2 separate regions of the Homo sapiens genome follow, and region 2 is linked to region 1. Evidence: fine-mapped expression QTL. Tissue or cell type: left ventricle. Region 1 holds a variant in brackets; the other region holds the start of a gene. All regions are shown on one strand. Distances are between the middles of the regions.

Region 1 (7,736 bases):
AGCACTTTCAATACTTCATTTCAGGATCATCAGTGCAGAGCCCCCTCCTGACCCTACTTGCCTCCATTTGCCCTGGGGCAGTCCCTTTCTCTAAAGACCACCCACTCCCCAGAGCCTTTGTAGCTGTCCACAAGCATTATCTGGTCCTGGGGACAGTGGGAGGAGGCCTGTGTGGCTCCCAGCCCAGGCCATGAGTGAGTAGGTCCTGGGACATTCTGCTCCCCTTCTGTGGCATGCAGGCCAGGCCCAGTGGACTTTGCCCTGGCACTGAGGGCACTGCTTCATGTCCCAGACCCCATAGACCTGCCTCTGCCAACTGCTCCAGCTTTAGCCACTAGATCAAATGACCCATTGGTTTGATCCTGTGATTTGGGATGATTCTTCAATGAGGATGACATCAAAGCATGTGATACGGATCTTAAACCATAAGAAAAAAACAGTCCCTGTGCCACGCCTGTTCCACTTCCTGAGGGTGCTCCAAGCAGAGGCTTGAGGGGAAATGCAGAGCAAGGCAGGGCAGACCTCACACTCCTAGGGAGGAAATGAGGGAGAACAGGTACACACATGTGAAAAAGATCTGCTCCATGATGTACCAGGGAAGCACTTCCACAAGCCTGAACTATGTGGACATGAAAGGGGAGATGGACAGTTGTTTCCTCTCCAGCATCACCACCCCTTGGGCCTGTGTCATCACCGGAGCACTCCTCTGAGAACTTGGCCACTGGGGATGTGGAAGGACCATTCAGGATCATCTCCTGTAGATGCTCCATTTGGCAGATGAAGAAACTGAGGGTGGGTATGGTTTGCAGGGCATCACATTTCAGGTCTCCAACAGAGATGGAGATGGAACCCAGGTGTCTGGGCCCTAGGCCAGGGTTTTCTCCTCTGAACCAAGAGGCATCAAAAAAATCTCAGATCTCTGAAAAGTTCCCTTTCTAGAGACAATTAAAAAAAAAACAAAAACATAGGCTGGTAACGATGGCTCATGCCTGTAATCCCAGCACTTTGGGAGGCTGGGGCAGGCAGATCACCTGAGGTCAGGATTTAGAGACTGGCCAACATGGTGAAAACCCATCTCTACTAAAAATACAACAAATTAGCCAGGCGTGGTGGTGGGCACCTGTAATCTCATCTACTCGGGAGGCTGAGGCATGAGAATCGCTTGAACCCAGGAGGTGGAGGGTGCAGTGAGCTGAGATAGCGCCACTGCACTCCAGCCTGAGTGACAGACAGCAAGACTCTGTCTAAAAAAAGAAAAAGAAAAAGCATAGACTTTGAGGGTTAAACAGGCCTGTTGCAGCTTTGCCTACATGAGCTGTGGGTCTTGGGGCAACTCCATACCCTAAACTGTGCCTCATCTGTGAAATGAGGACAATAAGTATGACATGTATACTTGAAAATTGCTAAGAGAGTAGATTTTAAGTGTTCCCACCATGAAACAATAAGTATGTGAGGTCATGCATATGTTAAATAGCTTGATTTAGCCATTCCACAATATATACATATATCAAAACATCATGTGGTACACCATAAATATATGCAATTTTTACTTGTCGATTAAAAAAATTTAAGGATAACCTATTTATAGTTGTTGTGAGGACTGAATAAAATAGTGCCTCAAAACTCTTTGTAGATGCCCAGCCACTTGCAAGCACTGAAATCAATAAAACACAGCATTATAATTGCTATTACCCTCTACCTCCCCTTTTTCCTTGCCAGGCCTAGACCATTCTCCCTGATGCCTTGCCTGTCTTCTACCCAGCTGGGACCCTCTTGGGCACTACAGCTTCCTACACTCATGACACAGACTTTGGGAGCAATTCTAAATGACAGGTCTGTTGCTTAGCTGGGTGACTTTCTACAAGTCACTTAAGCTTCAGTGCCTGATATATAAAAATGAGAATCATAATACCCAGAATAATTCTCTGATAAATCAATGGCACAGAAGAATGAGAGGGATGACAGTTGTTACAGTTTAAAAGAGATCCATGAGACAAAAACAACAGAGGTCTCAGCCTGAGTAACGGAGTGAGACCCTGTCTCAGAAAAAAAAAAACTTTAATTATTGTTTGTTAACATAATGGCATGGTGATTATGTAACAAAAATCCTTATCTATGAGAAATGCATATTGGAGTATTTATGGGTGAAATGACTTAATGTCTAACATTTTCTTTAAAATATTTTAGAAAAGGCTGGGCACGGAGGCTGAGGCAGAGAATTGCTTGAACCCAGGAGGTGGAGGTTGCAGTGAGCCAAGATTGCACCACTTCAGCCAGCCTGGACAACAGAGTGAGACTCCTTCTGAGAAAAGAAAAGAAAAGAAAAAATAAGAAAAGAAAAGAGGCTGGGTGCAGTGGTTCACGCCTGTAATCCCAGCACTTTGGGAAACCAAAGTGGGAGGATCACCTGAGGTCAAGAGTTTGAGACCAGCCTGGCCAACATAGTGAAACCTTGTCTCTACTAAAAGTAAAAACAAAATTAGCTGGGCGTGATGGCGAGTGCCTGTAATCCCAGTTACTCGGGAGGCTGAGGCAGAAGAATCGCTTGAACCTGGGAGGTGGAGGTTGCAGTGAGCCAAGATCACGCCACTGCACTCCAGGCTGGACAATAGAGTGAGACTTTGTTTCAAAAAAAAAAATTTAGACAAAAGAAGCGTGGGCCAGGCACGGTAGCTCACGTCTGTAATCCCAGTAGCTTGGGAGGCTGAGGTGGGCTGATCACTTGAGGTCAGGAGTTCGAGACCAGCCTGGCCAACATGGTGAAACCCCGTCTCTACTAAAAATACAAAAATTAGCCGGGTATTGTGGCATGCGCCTGTAATCCCAGCTACTCGGGAGGCTGAGGCAGGAGAATTGCTTGAACCCGGGAGGCAGAGGTTGCAGTGAGCCAAGATCGCACCAATGCACCCCAGCTTGCGCAACAAGAGCGAAACTCCGTCTCAAAAAAAAAAGAAAGAAAAGATAAAAGAAGTGTATGGGAATATTGGGGCAATGATTAACGAGTTAAGCTGGGTTTGATTACGTGAGCCCATTATACTGTTCTCTCTAGTTTTGTGTGTTTGAAACTTTCATTCATAAGGAATAAAAATAAATGAAGTGACTTGCAGAGAGGGAGGCAGTAAATATAGTGGTTAAGAGCTCTGGGTCCAGACACCCACTGGTGTTCCGTAATTGTCTCTTCATCTGCCAGTACTATAGTGTTACGGTATGTTCTCATAACTGTAATGATGCTGGTTTATAACTTCCTGATTCTGATGCTGGCTCTGCTACCCACTGCTGGGGGACTTTGTCTGTGTGACTTATCCTCACTGAGCCTCTGAAGCTCACCTGCAAAACAGGGAAAATTATGATCCCTGCTGTACCAAGTTATTTGGAGGACTGAACGGGAGGATGGATGGAAAGGACTTAGCACAATGCCTGAACATAATAAGCGCTCAGTAAATCCTCCAGTGAGGGGAGCACAGGTTGAAGAATCAGGCTGCCGTGGATATGAACCCCAGCTCGGCTCTGCCACTTGTGGCTGTGTGACTCTGGC[C/T]AAGCCAATTAACTCTCTGAGCCTCATTTCCTCCTGGGAAAAAACCCGAAGATCATAAAACCTCCCCTGCAGGACTATGGTGAGGATTAAATGACATGTTTTGATGTCCAGCACAGCCCACGTGGGAATTTCCCTTCCTCACCCCTTGACTTTCAGCAGCACTGGCCTTGCCAGCGCCCCGGCTGGAATCGATCCCACTGTCCATTTGTTTGGCATCTGCACCTGGACTGCCAAGTGCGGCTGGAGAAAGTCAACAGGGCCATGTGAATGGCTCCTCACAAATGACACATCAGTACTGGGAAACATCAGCAAGGCTCTTCTGCCCCTAGACAATCCTTCCATTTCTCTCCAGGGCACTTCCTGTTGTGTTCCACACTGGCCAGTCCAAATCTTTTTCACCACTGATTCCTAAGCCTCAGAAGTTGACCTCAATGCTCTCTTGATCAAGGTCATCAAATATGAACACCTTTCTCTCCACCTCCCAACACCTCCATCCATTCCTCTCCTTCCATCCTTCCAACTCAAAGGTTGGAGCGTCCCTCTCTTTCCCAAGGCTTTAGAATTTACTCCATCATCCCCAAAACCCCATCTCCAGTACTTTTTTTCCATTGGCTGCACCAACTCAGCCAAAAAAAAAAACAACAACAAAAAAAAAAAAACTGCTGGGCGCAGTGGCTCACGCCTGTAATCCCAGCACTTTGGGAGGCCGAGGCGGGCAGATCACGAGGTTAGGAGATCGAGACCATCCTGGCCCACATGATGAAACCCCGTCTCTACTAAAAATACAAAAATTAGCTGGGCATGGTGGTGGGTGCCTGTAATCCCAGCTACTCGGGAAGCTGAGGCAGGAGAATGGCTCGAACCCGGGAGGCAGAGGTTGCAGTGAGCCAAGTTCACACCACTGCACTCCAGCCTGGTGAAGAGCGAGACTCTGTCTCAAAAAAAAAAAAAAAACTTGCTCAAGTATCTGAACCTTCTCCAAGTCTGACAGTGATGCAGCTGCTCCTTTATATTTAACCCACTCATTCACTTGTCCACTCATTTCAGAATCTTTGTTTTTTTTGAGACAGGGTCTCACTCTGTCACCCAGGCTGGAGTGCAGTGGTGTGATCACAGCATGCTGCAGCCTCAACCTCCCAGGCTCAAGCAATCCTCCCACCTCAGTCTACTGAGTAGTTGGGACTACAGATGGGCAACACTACGACCAGCTAATTTTTAATTTTTTGTAGAGATAGTATCTCACTATGTTGCCCAGGCTGGTCTCACACTAACTCCTGGGCTCAAGTGATCCTTCCACCTTGACCTCCCAAAGTGCTGGGATTATAGGTGTGAGCTACCGCGCCCAGCCAAGAAACATTTGTTGAGTGCCTACTAGGTACCAGGCATTGGGGGTACAGAGATGAATAGAGACCATCTTTGCCCTCAATGTCTTCAAAGTCCAGAGAGAGAGTCGGACTCACAAGCAGACGATGGTAATACGGCAAGTGAGATGCAAAGATGGGCCATGCCTGACACAGAGATTAAGTAGGCATGTGATGAGAAGAAGAGGGAGCCCTAAGATGACTCTCAGCTTCCTGGTTGGTGCAAATGGGTGGACAGTAGTGCTGTTCACTAAGATGCGAGACAAGAAAAATGGAGGGAGGAGCTAGGTATCGGGGAAGATGGTGTATTCTGGCTGGAGTATGATGAATTTGAGATACTATTAGAACATCCCAGTAGAAATCTCCAACAAATCTTTAGCTTAGGGGAGAGAGGAGAAGTCGGAACTGGAATTAGAGAGTTGAGAATCATCAGCATATGGGAGTCGGAATCATGCAGGTTTATGAGGTGCTTACTGCTTCAAGTAACAGAGTAATTACACTATAATGGCATTTGTAATCTCACGTCTTAAGTAGTCAAGAGACAGGCAGCTCTAGGGTTGGATAAATTGGCAACAAAATGATGGCATCTCTAACCCAGGTGCCTCCTATGGTTCCTCTATGCTATCCTCAGGGTGTTGACATCATCCTCAGCCTTGTCCCCTTGTGGTTGCAAGATAGCTGCTCTACCCTCTCACAGCCCCATTCAAAGGTATGGACAAAGCTTTCTTCTTGCACATTCATTTTTATTGTGGAGGAAATCCTTTATCTTTAGCCAACAGACATATCCTTGGGTCTCATTGACCATAACTGCATCATTAGGCAAAAGAGAATGGGGTTGTATGATAGGCTTAAACTGTGTGTGACTCATCTCCTGAGGCAGTGGAGAGGGCCATCTTCCTGGAGCACAATGCTGCCAATGCCTGAACTAAACTGAGGTCCCATGAGCAAGGAAGAAGAAGTGGCCTTTTTTCAGTCAGTGTTGACTTGACCTAAACACAGTTCAATAGAGTCTACATGAGGAGCTTGGGTTCCTAAGTCAAGCATATTTGGGTTCATGTCCTAGAGCCACCTCGTGCTATCGGTGGGACCTCATACAAGTTATTTTACCTGTGTGCCTGAGTTTCCTCACTTGTGGAATGGGGATATTATGGGTCTTTTGTTATTGGCTATTGAGATGGTAAAATGAAATAATGCATACAAAGCATTTAGCACAATGCATAGCACATAGTAAGTGCTCAGCAAAACCTAAGTGCTCAGCAAAATTTTGGGGGGACAACTCTCTCCTCGAAATCCTCCAGCCCTTTGTTTTTAAGGCCTCTTCTTTTTTCTGTAACTTGTCCCTCTTCTTCTCCCATTTCCTCTCTTCCAAGGTTTGCTTCTCTGCTCTATGTCTTGTCTCATTGCTCCCATCATTCCTCTTTCCTGAAATCCTTCATACTCCTCCTGAGTATTCCACAGCCTCTTAGGCTCATCTTGGGCCCTGATACCACTGCTCCATATCTCTGCCCCATCGCCTTGGACCAGATGACCCCACAGTCCTTTCATTAGATGCTACCTTAAAAACAGCTACTGGAGGCCAGGTACAGTGGCTCACGCCTGTAATCCCAGCACTTTGGGAGGTCGAGGCAGGTGGATTGCCTGAGGTCAGGAGTTCGAGACCAGCCTGGCTAACATGGTGAAAACCTGTCTCTATTAAAAATACAAAAATTAGTCGGGTGTCATGACACATGCCTGTAGTCCCAGCTACTCAGGAGGCTGAGGCAGGAGATTCACTTCAACCTGGGAGGCGGAGGTTGCAGTGAGCTGAGATGGCGCCACTGCACTCCAGCCTCTGGGCAACACAGTGAAACTACATCTCGGGAAAAAAAAAAAAAAAAACCAGCCACTGGAACTGCTCTAATGACTTCTACTTGCCAACGTGGAAGATGTCCTAAAATACATGGAGAAAAGTTAAAATGTGTGCAGCGAGCTGAGGGACGCCTTCTAAGTGTCCAGGCAGGGCTTTGTGGCACCGCATGAGGGGTTTCCCTTTCTTTCTTTCTTTTTTCTTTTTCTTTTTTTTTTTTTTTTGGAGACAGAGTCTCACTCTATCACCGGGCTGGAGTGCGGTGGTGCAATCTCGACTCACCGCAACCTCCTCTTCCTGGGTTCAAACGATTCTCCTGCCTCAGCCTACTGAGTAGCTGGGATTATAGGCACCTGCCATCATACCCAGCTAATTTTTGTATTTTTAGTAGAGACAGGGTTTCACCATGTTGGCCAGGATGGTCTCCATCTCCTGACCTCGTGGTCTGCCCACCTCGACCTCCTAAAGTGCTGGGTTTACAGGCGTGAGTCACTGTGCCCTCTGGGTTTTTCCTTTCTATCTCCCTTCCTGGGCTGTGAGTTTCTTGGGGCAGGGAAACAGATCACTCATCCATCTGTCACGTTGTGATGTATACTAGTTACCTGATGTATACTAGTACTCAGAAAAATGTCTGATGAATGAATAAAATTTCTGTCTTTGCCACTTATTTTCTTTCTTTTTTGTTTTGTTTTGTTTTGTTTGGAGATGGCGTTTCACTCTTGTCACCCAGGCTGGAGTGCAGTGGCGCGATCTCAGCTCACTGCAACCTCCACCTCCTGGGTTCAAGTGATTCTCCTGCTTCAGCCTCCTGAGTAGCTGGGATTACAGGCGCGTACCACCACACCCAGCTAAGTTTTGTGTTTTTAGTAGAGACAGGGTTTTACCATGTTGGCCAGGCTAGTCTCGAACTCCTGACCTCAAGTGATCCACCTGCCTCAGCCTTCCAAAGTGCTGGGATTACAGGTGTGAGACACCACGCCCGGCTGCCACTTAC
Region 2 (4,000 bases), 27 kb after region 1:
CTGGCCAACATGGTGAAACCCTGTCTGTACTAAAAATACAAAAATTAGCTTGGCATGGTCGTGGGCACCTGTAATCCCAGCTACTCAGGAAGCTGAGGCAGGAGAATCACTTGAATCCGGGAAGCAGAGATTGCAGTGAGCTGAGATTGCAGTCGAGCCTGGGCGACAGAGACAGAAATGAAACTCTGTCTCAAAAACAAACAAACAAAAAAACCACTATACATAAAAATGAACAATGATGCCACAATAGCACCAGAGAATTTTATAAATACAGATTCCCAGGCCCTGCCCCAGACCTACTGAATCCTGGAAATATTCAGGCTCCACACCCAGAGATTCTGGTTCGGTTGGTCTGATGCAGGGACCTGTAACCTGCGTTGTAACACCTTCTCCAGGTAATGCTGAGCCTGCTGGTGCTCAGAGTAGACAGACCTGGAGAAAACCAGGGTGTCTGAGGTTTTCCAGAAGAAAACCAGAGTCCAGAGAAGCAGAGAGGCACTCAGTGAGGACCCAAGCAGAGCGGGTGCACCTCACATCCTCACTCCTGGCACCCCGTCTCCTACAAGATGAGAGACTGAAAGAGCCCCTTCCTGTCCCCAGTGGTGTGGGCAAGAGGCCTGCACCTCTGACTCTTGGCTCTGTGAAAGGCCATACCCACCAAGCCTATGGTCCTAGCGACAAAGGGTGCTGGGGAGACGAATTGACCAGACAGGGAGGTCTCCAGCAGCTTCTTTCTACACAGAGGGCACCTGTCAGAGGCCAGCGTGGGGGCCACAGGCTCCCCAATCCCCAAGAACCGCCAGGGAAGGAGGCTGCTTCAAGTGGGTGGGGCACCAAGCTGGCCAGGAAGGACAGGGCTTCTCCCAGCGGTACCAACACGGTGGCACCTCCGGCCTGCATCTCCCAGGCTTGCTTGTCAGGCTTCCTGGGGCTCCCAGGAGCCGCTGCGGGGGAGGGGAGAAGGGGTGGCAGCAGTGGCAGTGGTCGTCTCTGCTCCGATGGTGACTGCCGATGACACTGTTCTCTGTGCGGGTGGAGACAAAGCCGGCCACTCCAGATTCTCCTGCGCGCAGGAGAGGAGGAGCTGGCGCTGCTTCAGTGGCGAGGATGGGTCGATCAGTCCCAGCCGGTCCTAGGGAGAGACACTGCCCCAGCCTGAGGGCGGCGCAGCCCACCCCACCCCAGGACCCTCCTAGCAGGAGGACAGGAACGCAAGCCGACCTCGGGGGGTCTCCGGCCTGAGAGGGGAACATGATCAAGCCCAGGGCAGCCGCCAGTCGGAGGGGGCAGACGCGGCCCCAGTAGCCTCTGGAGACCCTCTTCCGAGGCAAGGAGCCACATTCCTGCCGTCGGGACCACCAAAGCGGATTTCTACAAACTAAAGTCGAGAACTTTTCGGCGGCGAGGCGGCGCACCCCGCGCGGGAGAGGGGGCGCAGGCGTCACCCCGTCCTCACTCAGCAACACCCGGCGCCGCGCCGGGCGAAGGCTGGCAAACTTCTCGCGGCCGGCAGGTGGGCTCCGCGGGCCCCATGGGCGCAGGCACAGGTGTGCGGGGCCACAGCCGGGCCTTTTGCAGCCGGCGACCGCCCCCCCTTCCCCGCGGGCTTTTGCACACGACGCGCCGACGGCAGCTTCACACGGGTTGGCGAGGGCCGGATAAAGCCGGCGGCCGCGGGGCGCAGCGGCTGACCCGAGACACGGGAGCGCTTGGCACGCGGAGCCAGAGCCGGAGCTGCAGCCGCAGCGGGAGCCGGGGGAGCTCAGGGGCCGCAGGAGCCGGGCCGGAGTGAGCGCACCTCGCGGGGCCCTCGGGGCAGGTGGGTGAGCGCCACCCGGAGTCCCGCGCGCAACTTTCAGGGCGCACTCGGCGGGGCGGCTGCGCGGCTGCCGGGACTCGGCGCGGGACTGCATGGAGGCCAAGGAGAAGCAGCATCTGTTGGACGCCAGGCCGGCAATCCGGTAAGGCGAGAGCCTGGGGACGGGCGGGAATTTTGGCGGCAGCCGACGCACCTCCGCATTTGCCATCCTAGCAGTGGTTGGTTTTGGCTGCGGCTTGAGCTGGGACCATGCAGGAGGGGTGGGGTGAGGTGAGGGAACGAAGATAATGGGCTGTGGCCCAAGGACCGTCTCTCCCTTGGGGCGCAGCCCAGATTCTGACCCCTGCCCGCGGGGGGCCTGGGGCCGGGGGATTGGCGGTTCCCATGCCTGGAGTCCCGCCCCGCCCAGCACTTTGCCCCAGGCAGCCCCGCCCCGGGGAGGCCCTGTGTCCCAAGTGCGCTGGAGGGGGCCTGCTGTTCTCCCAGAGCCTGCGCTCTGTTCCTTCCCCGCGCTCCACTGGACAGCACGCCCCTTGGCCGGTTCCCAGGGTCTTCACCTCCTCTGGCCTCTGAAGGGCCCCGGGCCCCAGGACTCCCATTCCCCTATCATCCCCGTCTGAATACAGGCTTCTCACCTCTGGTTTGTCGAGCTCGGAGCGTCCTTAGCTATTTTTCCCAGTGGACACAAGGCCTCACAGAGAAATGGGACTAGAGTCGGCCCTCCTTACCTCATCTCAGAGCTGAGCGTTCCCTCTCTTCCCCTCTGGCCAGGTCATACACGGGATCTCTGTGGCAGGAAGGGGCTGGCTGGATTCCTCTGCCCCGACCTGGCCTGGACTTGCAGGCCATTGAGCTGGCTGCCCAGAGCAACCATCACTGCCATGCTCAGAAGGGTCCTGACAGTCACTGTGACCCCAAGAAGGGGAAGGCCCAGCGCCAGCTGTATGTAGCCTCTGCCATCTGCCTGTTGTTCATGATCGGAGAAGTCGTTGGTAAGCACTTTTGGGCTAATTAAATGAAGTTGGTGCATGGATAGACTGGATGTTCCCAGCAATACTGACACTAAAAGCCCCAATTACTGAACACACACTACAGTAAGCCTTTATATACACATTATCTGATGCAGGTCTAACAACAACCTGTGTTCTCACATGGGTGACGTTATTCTCCTTACTTTACAGATGATGAAACTGAGGCATGTTCAGGTGAAGTAACTTGCCAAAGATCACGCACAACTCGTAGCTAAGGGAAGGCCTGAATTCCTAGAAGGGAAGAGCATTTACTGAGTATCTGCTATGTTTTCCAGTCCCTATTTGAACTTGATGTGCACATTCACCCTCTAAGTAGATATTGGTGGCCCATTTCACAGAGAGTGGAAGTTGAGGCTCAGAGAGAGTAGGTCACTTGTCACGGTGGTACAGCTCATGGGTAGAGAGATCTTGAGCCCAGAATGTCCTCTTCCAGAGCCTGTGGTCTCCCTGCTGCACACACAGTCTTGGGAGCCAGCTCTCTGGGGGAGCTGATAAGGACCCTCCACCCTGCAGGTGGGTACCTGGCACACAGCTTGGCTGTCATGACTGACGCAGCACACCTGCTCACTGACTTTGCCAGCATGCTCATCAGCCTCTTCTCCCTCTGGATGTCCTCCCGGCCAGCCACCAAGACCATGAACTTTGGCTGGCAGAGAGCTGGTGAGGATCGCGGTTTGGCTGGAGATGGGGTTGAGAGAGAGGGTGGGTTAGAACAGGGGTTCTTAGGTGGCTGTAATGGGTGGATCCCCCCTTCCTCCCCTGAGTGAGGCCAGGAGGGTGATCTGGATGGGGGAAGAGGATGTCAACCATGGCCTCTGTCCTCTGGGAAATCCTAGTCTGATGGGGGAGCCCTGGTCCCAGTCATCCAGGAGCTCTCAGTCTGCAGGGAAGCAAAGTTGACCTTCCTAAGAAGTGCAGTAGCCAAGCTTCAAGAACAAATGACAATGGCATTAACACTGCACATAACTCTGTGGATCAGCTCTGGGGGGAGGGGAAGGCCAGCAAAGGCTGCTGGAAGATATAGGCTTTAACCTCTCTTCCGTTCACCCTGGACTGCATCGTCACCTTCCTCTTTGTGGGAGATGGCCCAGCCTGTCTTCCCCAGAAGCCTCAGTTTACTAGCTGAACAAAAGGCACATACTTTAATAAG

Which allele goes with the higher level. Positions count from the first base shown, and alleles are read on the strand shown. Sizes are in standard deviations (SD) of each study's normalised expression.
For the expression in left ventricle of the gene that starts at base 1,690 in region 2, allele C in region 1 goes with a higher level than allele T (small effect, 0.32 SD a copy in GTEx).

Evidence for each region. PIP is the estimated chance that this variant, and not a neighbour inherited with it, causes the effect. A credible set is the group of variants that fine-mapping cannot tell apart.
Region 2: SLC30A2 starts here. The variant in region 1 is the best candidate, but not a certain one, in a credible set for the expression of SLC30A2 in left ventricle (GTEx, PIP 0.81).

The regions. Positions count from the first base shown.
Region 1 is chr1:26,068,539-26,076,274 of GRCh38, reverse strand. No RefSeq gene overlaps it. Among named protein-coding and RNA genes, the nearest start is that of TRIM63, 4.8 kb to the right of the region's middle. The variant C/T (reference allele first, on the strand shown) is at 3,536.
Region 2 is chr1:26,043,808-26,047,807 of GRCh38, reverse strand. It overlaps SLC30A2 (solute carrier family 30 member 2), which reads left to right and starts at 1,690. Exons shown (of 8, transcript NM_001004434.3): 1 at 1,690-1,961; 2 at 2,591-2,811; 3 at 3,364-3,510. The coding sequence starts at 1,912. RefSeq lists an enhancer at 2,091-2,659.